Linked DNA regions of Homo sapiens. The protein of the gene in region 1 purifies or fractionates together with the protein of each later gene. This does not show direct contact. Each region holds a gene or a part of one and is shown on either strand. Other genes may lie near its edges.

What was found. Proteins that work in one complex are often made in the same cells at the same time.
Region 2: the proteins of IFT57 (region 1) and CLUAP1 purify together in Homo sapiens (affinity purification with mass spectrometry; 6 studies listed by BioGRID and IntAct, with this or other methods). This does not show direct contact.

The regions. Positions count from the first base shown.
Region 1 is NC_000003.12:108,160,294-108,163,443, reverse strand, and holds the end of IFT57 (intraflagellar transport protein 57 homolog), read left to right. Parts: intron 1-788; coding exon 789-967; 3' UTR 968-2,632; downstream 2,633-3,150. UniProt on the Homo sapiens protein: Required for the formation of cilia. Plays an indirect role in sonic hedgehog signaling, cilia being required for all activity of the hedgehog pathway.
Region 2 is NC_000016.10:3,504,004-3,511,040, reverse strand, and holds part of CLUAP1 (clusterin-associated protein 1), read right to left. Parts: intron 6,322-7,037; coding exon 6,210-6,321; intron 4,711-6,209; coding exon 4,626-4,710; intron 2,753-4,625; coding exon 2,573-2,752; intron 1,148-2,572; exon of another isoform or gene 1,072-1,147; intron 1-1,071. UniProt on the Homo sapiens protein: Required for cilia biogenesis. Appears to function within the multiple intraflagellar transport complex B (IFT-B). Key regulator of hedgehog signaling.

The sequences.
Region 1 (3,150 bases):
ATTCAAACTATTGATTCAAAGAGTGGGAAATATTTAAATATGTACTTTGTTATGCCAGTTTAAAAAATAATATTGTGTTCTGTTTTCATCAAATGAGCTTCACTTTTTCTATTTTATATACAAAAGGGCACTAAGTATATGCCCAAATGACACTAAGGCAGTGATGTGATAACCCGTAGTTTATTTTCCCTCCTCCCCAGTAGAACTGACTGGGCAGGGGTCAAATAGAGAAGAATTAATCATCCTCTGGTAATCATCCTCCATTGTGAGCAGGTTACTTTGATATGGGCCAGTAGTGATTGCCGAAGGCTTTTCTATGCCCTAGAAAAATTTTCTAGAGTTCTATTGATATATACTGAATGATCTTGCAAAAGGGAATGTTTAGGATTTTTTTTTTGCAATATGTTTTAAGTGGGCCCATTATCTACATCTCAAAGATAATTCTCTCTTCCCCTTTTCCCCTTTTGTATTTCCTTTTCCTACAGACAAATATACTAGCTCATAAAATCATCTTGAACACATCCTTAAACACCTGTTTAGCAGCTCTTTCCCCTAGAAAAGGAAGAAAGTTTAGTCTCAATACATCAAACACTACATCATTTTTCCATCCTAAAAAATCTCAGGTGCTTAAAATGCCACAGCAAAACTGTGTGAATGTCAGTAAGTTTTTGGCTATATTTTTAACCCTATTTTGGGCTTAAGACAAAGTGAGGAAAATGTCATACAATTCTGTAATACACTGATACTCCAAATGAACATTTTTATTTCATGTTATTTTCATTCTGCAGCTCCTTTGGTGAAGATTAAACAGAGCTTAACAAAACTGAAGCAAGAAACTGTAGAGATGGACATTAGAATTGGCATTGTGGAACACACACTACTCCAATCAAAGCTGAAGGAGAAGTCCAACATGACTAGGAACATGCATGCCACAGTTATTCCAGAACCAGCAACAGGCTTTTATTAAAACATACTGGTTTTCATGTTTCTGATTAGTTGGGTTTTTTATATCAAACTATATTTCATGTTGCATAGATTTCAAAACATAATTTTATGTTCAATGGGTATTTTTTTACATATACATACTCACATATTATATCATGGTGATTATGATGGTTAAAGCCTTTACACTGAATGTAATGTTTAATAAAGAAATTACAAATTCTCACTTTCTAAGAAGCTTTCACTAATCATTACCTATGTTAAAGCTCCCACCTGGTGGCTCATTTTTCATAGCATTCCTTGTGTAAGCCAAGGTATATGACCTGCGTTTTCTGCAGATGCTGCTGCTGTCACAACATGAACTGCTGACACAGTCCTTTACCTTGCTCCACCTCTGCAGTGATCATAAGTGCTTTGTGCCCAGAGGCCACTGAAGATGGTAGGCAGGATTCTTTCCAAGAACCCAAACTGCCTTTGCCTCAGCTTTATGGTTACCTAAAATTGCCACTTTTTTTAGGTTAAAAAAAACTTCAGTATCCTCATTAACATTTGAAGTTGGTTTCTTATGAATATTTCGTGGCTAAAATGATTTTATAGGGAATCTATCTTCTAGGATCTAAGCCACTAAATAAAAGGATAAATGAATGATGATAAGTCAGTCACTCATGTTTGACTCTGTTCTTAGAATGAAGAGAAGGTGCATATGCATGTCTCAATTTCTACCTTTTTCTGTGGTATCGGCTATACTAGGGAACCATTTTGTAGAAGAAGGAACGATGACAGGTCGCATGAAGATCAGCCTCTAGTACTGATGATCTTTACTTATGCATCTTCCTGAGCAACTTTCTAGGCTAGGATTTCTAAATTGGTGAAAAAAGCAGCATTAGAGTGCCAGAATTAGCACTGGGGAAAACTGGCCAGGGGAACACAAAGCAGGAGACAGCCTGCGTTAATTTTTTTTTTTTAATAATTTTCAAAAGCAGTGGTAGAAAATTTGATAAGAATGCTTTATGTTTAGGACAACAAAAATAATTTTAAAAAGTTATTTTTTACCCTAATACTTTTCTCCACTGAATATTATTATTTTTTTCTTAGCTTTTTCTTTCTAGATGTATTCCCCAACATGCTCACATACACAGATCTTTCCCTTTCCTTACTAGACCTCTCTTTAGTTTAAGATAAGTTTAGACAGGAGAAAGTGTATGTAAACTACCTGAAAGGATGACAATCAATACAATGACAAATATGCCAGTTTATTTAATTTGTTTAAAAAAAAAAAGGCAGAAAACCCACCATGGGAAAATAAGCATTTTTTAAAATCTGAAGTTGCTCTTTTCCTGTGTGGTCTTTGGGAGGAGTCTAATACAAAAACTGAAAACCTTTGGTCCTGGGAATTTATTTTCATGGCTGTTGTCATGGCTGAGTAGTTTTTTGATGAATTCAATCAATGCAGAGAACGCTTTTAGATAAATCAGAACTCTCCTTAAAATGCATTTCAATCAGAAGCAAAGTACACCCATTATTTATGCAGACATGTAAAAAATCTAAAAATTCTTGCAATGAGTAGTATAAGCCACCTATTTTTACTTCCTTCTCTGAAATATTCCAGTTAACTCAGCTTGGGTTCTGTGCTCCTCCTCTCTTCCTATAGAACACTGTGCATACCTTGAATAAAGAGCTTATTATACTATATTGTTATTTTCTTCCATCCTACCTAATGAATTGAGCTACTTTAGGATAGGACAAAGTCTTTTATTTCCGTATTCCTTGCCAGGTGCCCAGCACATAGAAAGTGTCTAGTAAATGTATTGAGTTAGTAAATGGATGAGTAGATGACTGGCACTGTGTGGATCCAGGATACCTTCTAGCTCCCATTCTATAGCATGAAGAGTTTAATGACATTAAGCCTGTGTGCTTGGTATAGTTTCAAGATAGCGATTAAAAACAATGGGTTCTTTTCCTATGGTATTGGATTAGAATTAGAAACATCAGTATGAACTCATGGGTTTTTAAAAGTAAGTATAGATTAATAGAAATATAGAAATATTTAACATGTAGTAATACACACACACATATTTCCTAGTTGTGTCCTCTGATAGAGCCTAGTAGCAGTGACAGCCCAATTACAACTGTGGGCACTCAGATCTTGATGTCTAAATTCTCTTCTTTAAAAAAAAAAGGAAGTCTTAGATTTCTGATTCCTGGGCT
Region 2 (7,037 bases), on another chromosome or scaffold:
TGGAGCGAGTCAGAGTTTCATTCCTGGACCCCCCGTCTTTTCTGCTGGCTCTGCTCCTACCCTCAAGGCTTTAATACCATCTGTGTGCTGATTGCTCCCCAGCTCCCAGCTCCAGCCTGGGCTTTCCCTGGGCTCTAGTTTCACATACCAGCTACCTGTGCACCATCTCCACCTGGACAGCCAATCGGCGTGGCAAATGGAGCATGTGCAGAACCTTCTCTGCTTCAGTACATGGCAACTTCATCCTTCCAGGGGCTCACACAAAAAACTTCAGAGCAGTGATGTCTAATATAGTAACCAATAGCCACATGTGGCCATTTTCACTTAAATTACTTAAGAATTAAAGAAAATGCAGAACTCAACTCAGTTCCTCAGTTGTGCTTGCCACATGTGGCCAGTGGTTCCCGTAGAGTACAGCACAGAGGCGGAACACACCCATGAGCTCTGCAAGCTCTGCCGCACGGCTGCCCCAAGACCCGGCCTGTAGCACCTGACTTACTCTCAACCCATGCCTCATCCCGTGAGATCTACCATCAAAATATGCCCCAATCTCTAGACACTTCTCTTGCTGACGAGTGTCGCTCCTGGTTAAAAACCCACATGTGAGGACAGGCGCGGTGGCTCACGCCTATAATCCCAGCACTACGGGAGGCCGAGGCAGGCAGATCACCTGAGGTCAGGAGTTTGAGACTAGCTGGCCAACATGGTGAAACCCCATCTCTGCTAAAAAAAAAAAAAAAAATACAAAGCCGGGTGCGGTGGCTCACGCCTGTAATCCTAGCACTTTGGGAGGCTGAGGCGGGCAGATCACCTGAGGTCAGGAGTTCGAGACTAGCCTGACCAACATGGAGAAACCCTGACTCTACTACAAGTAAAAAATTAGCTGGGTGTGGTGGCGCATGCCTGTAATCTCAGCTACTCAGGAGGCTGAGGCAGAAGAATCACTTGAACCTGGGAGGCAGAGGTTGCAGTGAGCTGAGATTGTGCCATTGCACTCCAGCCTGGGCAACAAGAGTGAAACTCCATCTCAAAAAAAAAAAAAAAAAATTAGCTGGGCATGGTGGTGTGTACCTGTAATCCCAGCTACTTAGGAGGCTGAGGCAGAAGAATCTCTTGAACCTGGGAGGCAGAGGCGCAGCGAGCCAAGATCGTGCCATTGCACTCCAGCCTGGGCCACAGACTGAAACTCCGTCTCAAAACAAAACAAAAACAAAACAAAAAAGCTGTGTGTGGCTTTTCAAGCCCAACTATAGACCATGACAAGGCCTCACCTAGCAGGCCTCACAGGGGAAGCTTTCTTCCCTGCAGCAGACTTGGAGCTCAGCCAGTGCACTGTGGTTTCACGTACCCTGCGTGGCCACACTCTTAGGTGCACTCCCAGCCCCGGGGCCTTCATTCCTAGGTCTCCTGCTCTGAGGCCTTGGGCCTCAGAGTAACGGCTTAACCTTTATTTCTGGCTTGCTGCTGTGGTCGCTCCCTGACACCTGACGGCACCTGTCCCACCAGCACTCTGCTCAAAGCCACGGTCACCCCTCACTCTCCAAACAGGCTCGCTGCTTCCAGCCCTGCCGCCTGCTTCGGTCTGATGGCGGCTCAGCAGCCAGAGCAACCCTTTGGACGGGAAATAAGCACAGAAGGTTCCGCTTGGATCCCAACGATTCCCACCTTAGAGGCAAAGACAAAGGCTTTCCAGGGGCTTCCCAGGCGCCAGAGGGTCTGTCAATCCCAACCCTCATCACACGGCCTCCTTGCTTTTCCTCAAACACACAAAACACATTTTTTTTCTTCCCCCCAGACAAGGTCTCGTTCTGTTGCCTAGGCGGGAGCGCAGTGCCATGAACATGGCTTGACTGCCTGGGCTCAAGAGATCTTCCCACCTCAGCCTCCTGGGCAGCTGGGACCACAGGTGTGTACCACCACGCCTAGCTAATTTTTTTCTTTTTTTTGGTAAAAATGGCGTCTCACTATGTTGCCCAGGTTGGTCTGGAACTCTTGGCATCAAAGGATCCTCCCACCTCGGCCTCCCAAAGTGTTTGGCTTACAGGAGTGAGTCACTGCACCCAGCCCAAAACAAATTATCATCCTGAGACACCCTGACGCCACCCGCCACCCGCACAACTCACTCTTTCCCTCCCTTGGATCTCTGCTGGAAACACCATCCAATCCATGAGGCCTTCCTGATCACCCGATTTAAGATCACTCTGGGCAGCATCCATCCCCATCCCAGCTTATTATTCTCCACAGCCTGCACTGCATCTGGCCTTCCACACCTCTTATTGTTCACAGTCTGACTCCCCTAACTGAAGAGAATAAACACACGATTTTTGTCCTTTTTGTTCACAACTGTATCCTCAGCGCTTGAATGCTACCTGACAAATACTAAGCTTTTAATAAATAGTTGAATTAGTGGATTGTGACTTTGACTTTATCCAAATGCTGATGAGCACAAAACTGACAAACTGCCCTCAGCTGAGGAGGAAGAAAAGCAGCGGAGCTGTAGCAGACTCCTTCCACTTCAGAGCTCAAGAAATCAACGCTCCATCGCCCACTACAAGGCTTTTGTTGTCCTTACCTTTGAGCCAAGATCAAACTTGAACTTGTTGACATCTTCCTCTACTATTTCAGAGCCCTCCATCCCCTTGGTCTTCATAGCATTATAAAGGACAGATGTGATCTTCAGCAGCTCTTTTACCGCATACCCATCTGCTTGATAAAGCTTCTTAGTGTTGAGTTTTATATGTGCCTTGGTGGCCTATTTTTAGACCAAAAAAAAAAAAAGTTGAAGGCCCTTTCCATGTAATGTCTAAACTAAATCCCATGTAGGTGAGTTGAAAATGCCTCTGCTGACAACTGGGATATAACCTAATAAAAGCAAAGCATTCAAGTGACTCAAACATTGTGAGTGGTTGTATAAACTGGGACAATCTTGATGGAGAGCAATTTGGTAAAAGACATCAAAATTACAAATGCACATATCTTTTGACCCAGCAATCCCAAATCTAAGAACTTATTCTAGGGACACACTCAAACACAAACAAAATGAGATGTACAGGTTATTTGTTACAGCACTGTTCCAAAGAGCAAAGCTTCAGACAACCTAAAAGCCTACCTATATAAATTACATAAATTATGGCAAATCCATGCAAGCAATACCACTCAGGCGTAAACAGAATGAGGAAATTCTATATGTATTTGGAAAGTTCTCTAAAATATACCATTAAGTAAAGCAAGATGCTAAACATCTTGTAGTGTACAGTAAGTACATCAAGTAGAATACAGTACCATTTGTGTAAAACAAAGGAAAAATATATATTTTTATTTGCACACACACACACACACACACACACACACACACACACAAACTCTGGAAGAGATTTAAAATAGTGGTTATTTGGAATGGAACTTGGCCCAGGGCAGATAGGGTAAAAAGTCATTTTACTCCATTTTGTTTCATAATGTTTTTAATTTTTTTTTTTTTTTTGAGATAGGGTCTCACTCTGTCACCTGGGCTGGAGTGCAATGACATGATCCCGGCTCACTGCAGCCTCAACCTCCCGGGCTCAAGCAATCCTCCCACCTCAGCCTCCCAAGCACCTGAGACTACAGGCACGTGTCACCAGGCCCATCTAATTTTTTTTAAATTTATTTTTTGTAGAGACAGGATCTCACTACATCACCCAGGCTGTTCTCAAACTCCTGGACTCAAGCTATCCTCCCACCTTGGCCTGCCAAAGTGCTAGGATTACAGGCATGAACAACCACGCCCAGCCTACTTTCAATTTGTGAGCCATGAAATATGTTATCTATTCAAAAATAAATAAATAAAATTCTTTTTTTTTTTTTTTAAGACAGAGTCTTGCTCTGTTGCCCAGGCTGGAGTGCAGTGGCGTGATCTCGGCTCACTGCAAGCTCTGCCTCCCAGGTTCACACCATTCTCCTGCCTCAGCCTCCCGAGTAGCTGGGACTACAGGTGCCCGCCACCACATCCAACTAATTTTTTGTATTTTTACTGGAGACGGGGTTTCACCCTGCTAGCCAGGATAGTCTCAATCTCCTGACCTCGTGATCCGCCCACCTCGGCCTTCCAAAGTGCTGGGATTACAGGCGTGAGCCACCACACCTGGCATAAACAAAATTCTTAACAAATAATGAATTAAAAGACAAACAAAAAGAACTTCGCTGGTGAAATGGTGCCACAGAAACCCAGCAATGGAATGGTTTTAGAAAGCAAACTCAGGCCAGGCGCGTGGTGGCTCACATCTGTAATTCCAGCACTTTGGGAGGCCAAGGAGGGTGGATTACTTGAGGTCGGGAGTTTGAGACCAGCCTAGCCAACATGGTGAAACCCAGTCTCTACTAAAAATGCAAAAATTAGCCAGGTGTGGTGGCGTGTGCCTCTAATCCTAGCTACTCGGGAGGCTGAGACAGGAGAACCCCCGAGGAGACGGAGGTTGCAGTGAGCCAAGATTGTGCCACTGCACTCCGGCCTGGGCGAGAGAATGAGACTCCATCTCAAAAAAAAAGAAAGAAAAACTCAATTACACAGTTTGAAAGTCGCCCTAACAAGGAGTCATCCTTTCTAGTTTATTTAATTTTACAACTCCACAAAATAAGTGTCCACTAACCATGAACTGGGCAATTGCCTTAATGAAGAAAACTCGGTCCTGTTCAGTATCCACGTCAGGCGGGATGTCAGTCTGGGGCTCATATCTATCAAGAGAGGTAAGAGGAGAGAGCACGGGTTAACCAAGGAGAAAGTCTACTAAAGAGAATGTGGGCAACTGAGAGGACAGCGGGTCTGGAACACAACGCTCTCCAAGTCCCCAAGTGGGAGAGTGAGATCAAGGCAAACTTCAAAAGCAAAACCAAATACCAAGGGAGCAAATCCCCACCTAAGAAAAACAGATTTCAAAAACTAAATGTGGATCTCAGCTTATAAAATTAAATCTCTCTCAGATCTCACCATGTCATGAAGCTAATCAGAACTGCTACCCTGGCTGACAGCCCTTGACTCAGAGATCAGTGCTAGGGCCGATTAGTCAGCTCTAAGCAGCAGCAGAGTTGGTGAAGTTATTTTCTTCAAGGTATTGAAACCAGGGGTCAGCAGACTGCAGCCTCCGACCTGTACAGCCTGCAAGCTAAGAACTGTTTTTACATTTTAACAAAAAGAAGAGACGCAATAGAGATCTTATGAATTTTATATTTAGCAAAAGGTAAAATATTATCTGGTCCTTAACAGAAAAAGCTGCCAACCCTGAATCATATAACATATTCAATTTTTTCACAGAAAAAGAAATCTCCATTATTTCTAATCCAGTGTACTGATCAGAATGTGCAAAAAGGCCCCTGTCACTCTGCCATGAGGGGCTGAAGAGCAGCCTGGCCCAGCATCCTACTGAGGAATAGTCGTCTCCTTTCACGACTTCCTGGTATATTTCCCACTCCCACAGCATTCTTTAAACTCCACTGATTTTTTTTTTTTTTTTTTTTTTTTGAGACGGAGTCTCGCTCTTTCACCCAGGCTGAACTGCAGTGGCGCTATCTCGGCTCACTGCACACTTCGGCTCACTGCATGCTCCGCCTCCCGGGTTCACTCCATTCTCCTGCCTCAGCCTCCTGAGTAGCTGGGACCACAGGCGCCCGCCACCACGCCTGGCTAATTTTTTGTGTTTTTAATAGAGATGGGGTTTCACCGTGTTAGCCAGGATGGTCTTGATCTCCTGACCTCGTGATCCACCCGCCTCGGCCTCCCAAAGTGCTGGGATTACAGGCGTGAGCCACTGCGCCCGGCCTGATTTTGTTTTTTGAGACACAGTCTCAATCTGCCCGGGCTGGTGTGCAATAGCATGATCAGTGGCACTGCAGCCTCAAACTCCTGGGATCAAGTGATCCTCCTGCCTCAGCCTCCTGAGTCGCTGGAACTATGAGTGTGTACCACCCAGGCTCAGCTAATTGTTCTTTTGTGTATGGAGACAGGGTCTTGCTATGTTGATGAGGCTAGTCTTGAATGACTGAGATTATGAAGTGCTGGGATGAGAGCAGTGAGCCACTGTGCCCAGCCACAACTCCTTTGTAACAGAATACAGCTGGGTCTGTCAAATTCCAAAAACTTTCCCTTTTGCAGCATCACAGCTGTGTCCTGTTTTCTAGATGACTAATAAATAAAACCCAGTATTCACTCTTAGATGTCAATAAAGTGCCGTTCGAACCTTTTCACAAGCCAGAGAAGCACTTCAGATACAAGTCCAAAATTGGGTGTACGGAAATTTTCCATAGAAATATGTCGAGGGTATCCCAGGGCTCTCATCATCTCTGTGAAATCTGTCCAAGGAAAAATACAATTCATTCAGTTCCCCATCACACAGCAACTACTTATTAACTTAGATATTGTCTTTACTTTTCCTTCTTATTTCCAACCTATTGACAGCTTTAGGGACTATTTGTCAACTTTCTACAAGGGAAAGCAAAAAGGAGATAAAATTTAAAATACCAAAAATGCTACCTAAAAAGCATATATTTAAGTTCAATGGGAGAAGTAGATGGCTATACATGAAAATGGAATTGAGGGATTAGCTGTGAATTTCATTTCTCTCTTTAGTATCTCATTTCTTTTTACTGCTAAAAGGAAGAAACACCCGTCCTTATAAAATGTCATGAAGAAAAAGTATTTTTAAATGTCAACAGTGGTTTGACTCAAATTCAGCTGATTAAAAAGTGTTTTAAAATGTTAACAGTGGTTATTTCTGAGGGGAATCCGTAGGATGACATTCATGTTTCTGAGTTGTCTTTTTTTTTAATTTTAGTGACCACATAGGACCCAAATAACACAAGTTTTAAAGATCAGTCGCCTTGTATTTAGAGAAATCTTAAATAGAGTGGTTGAACTATACAACCATATTTAGATTTACTATAAAACAGATTAAGAAACAGTAATACTAATACTTGTTGATCCATAGGTTGGGGTCACCTCAGGAAAAGCCTTAGTGCTTTCAAGAGAGCAGGACTTGGAAATGAACACCACAAACATTTGTTGAGTT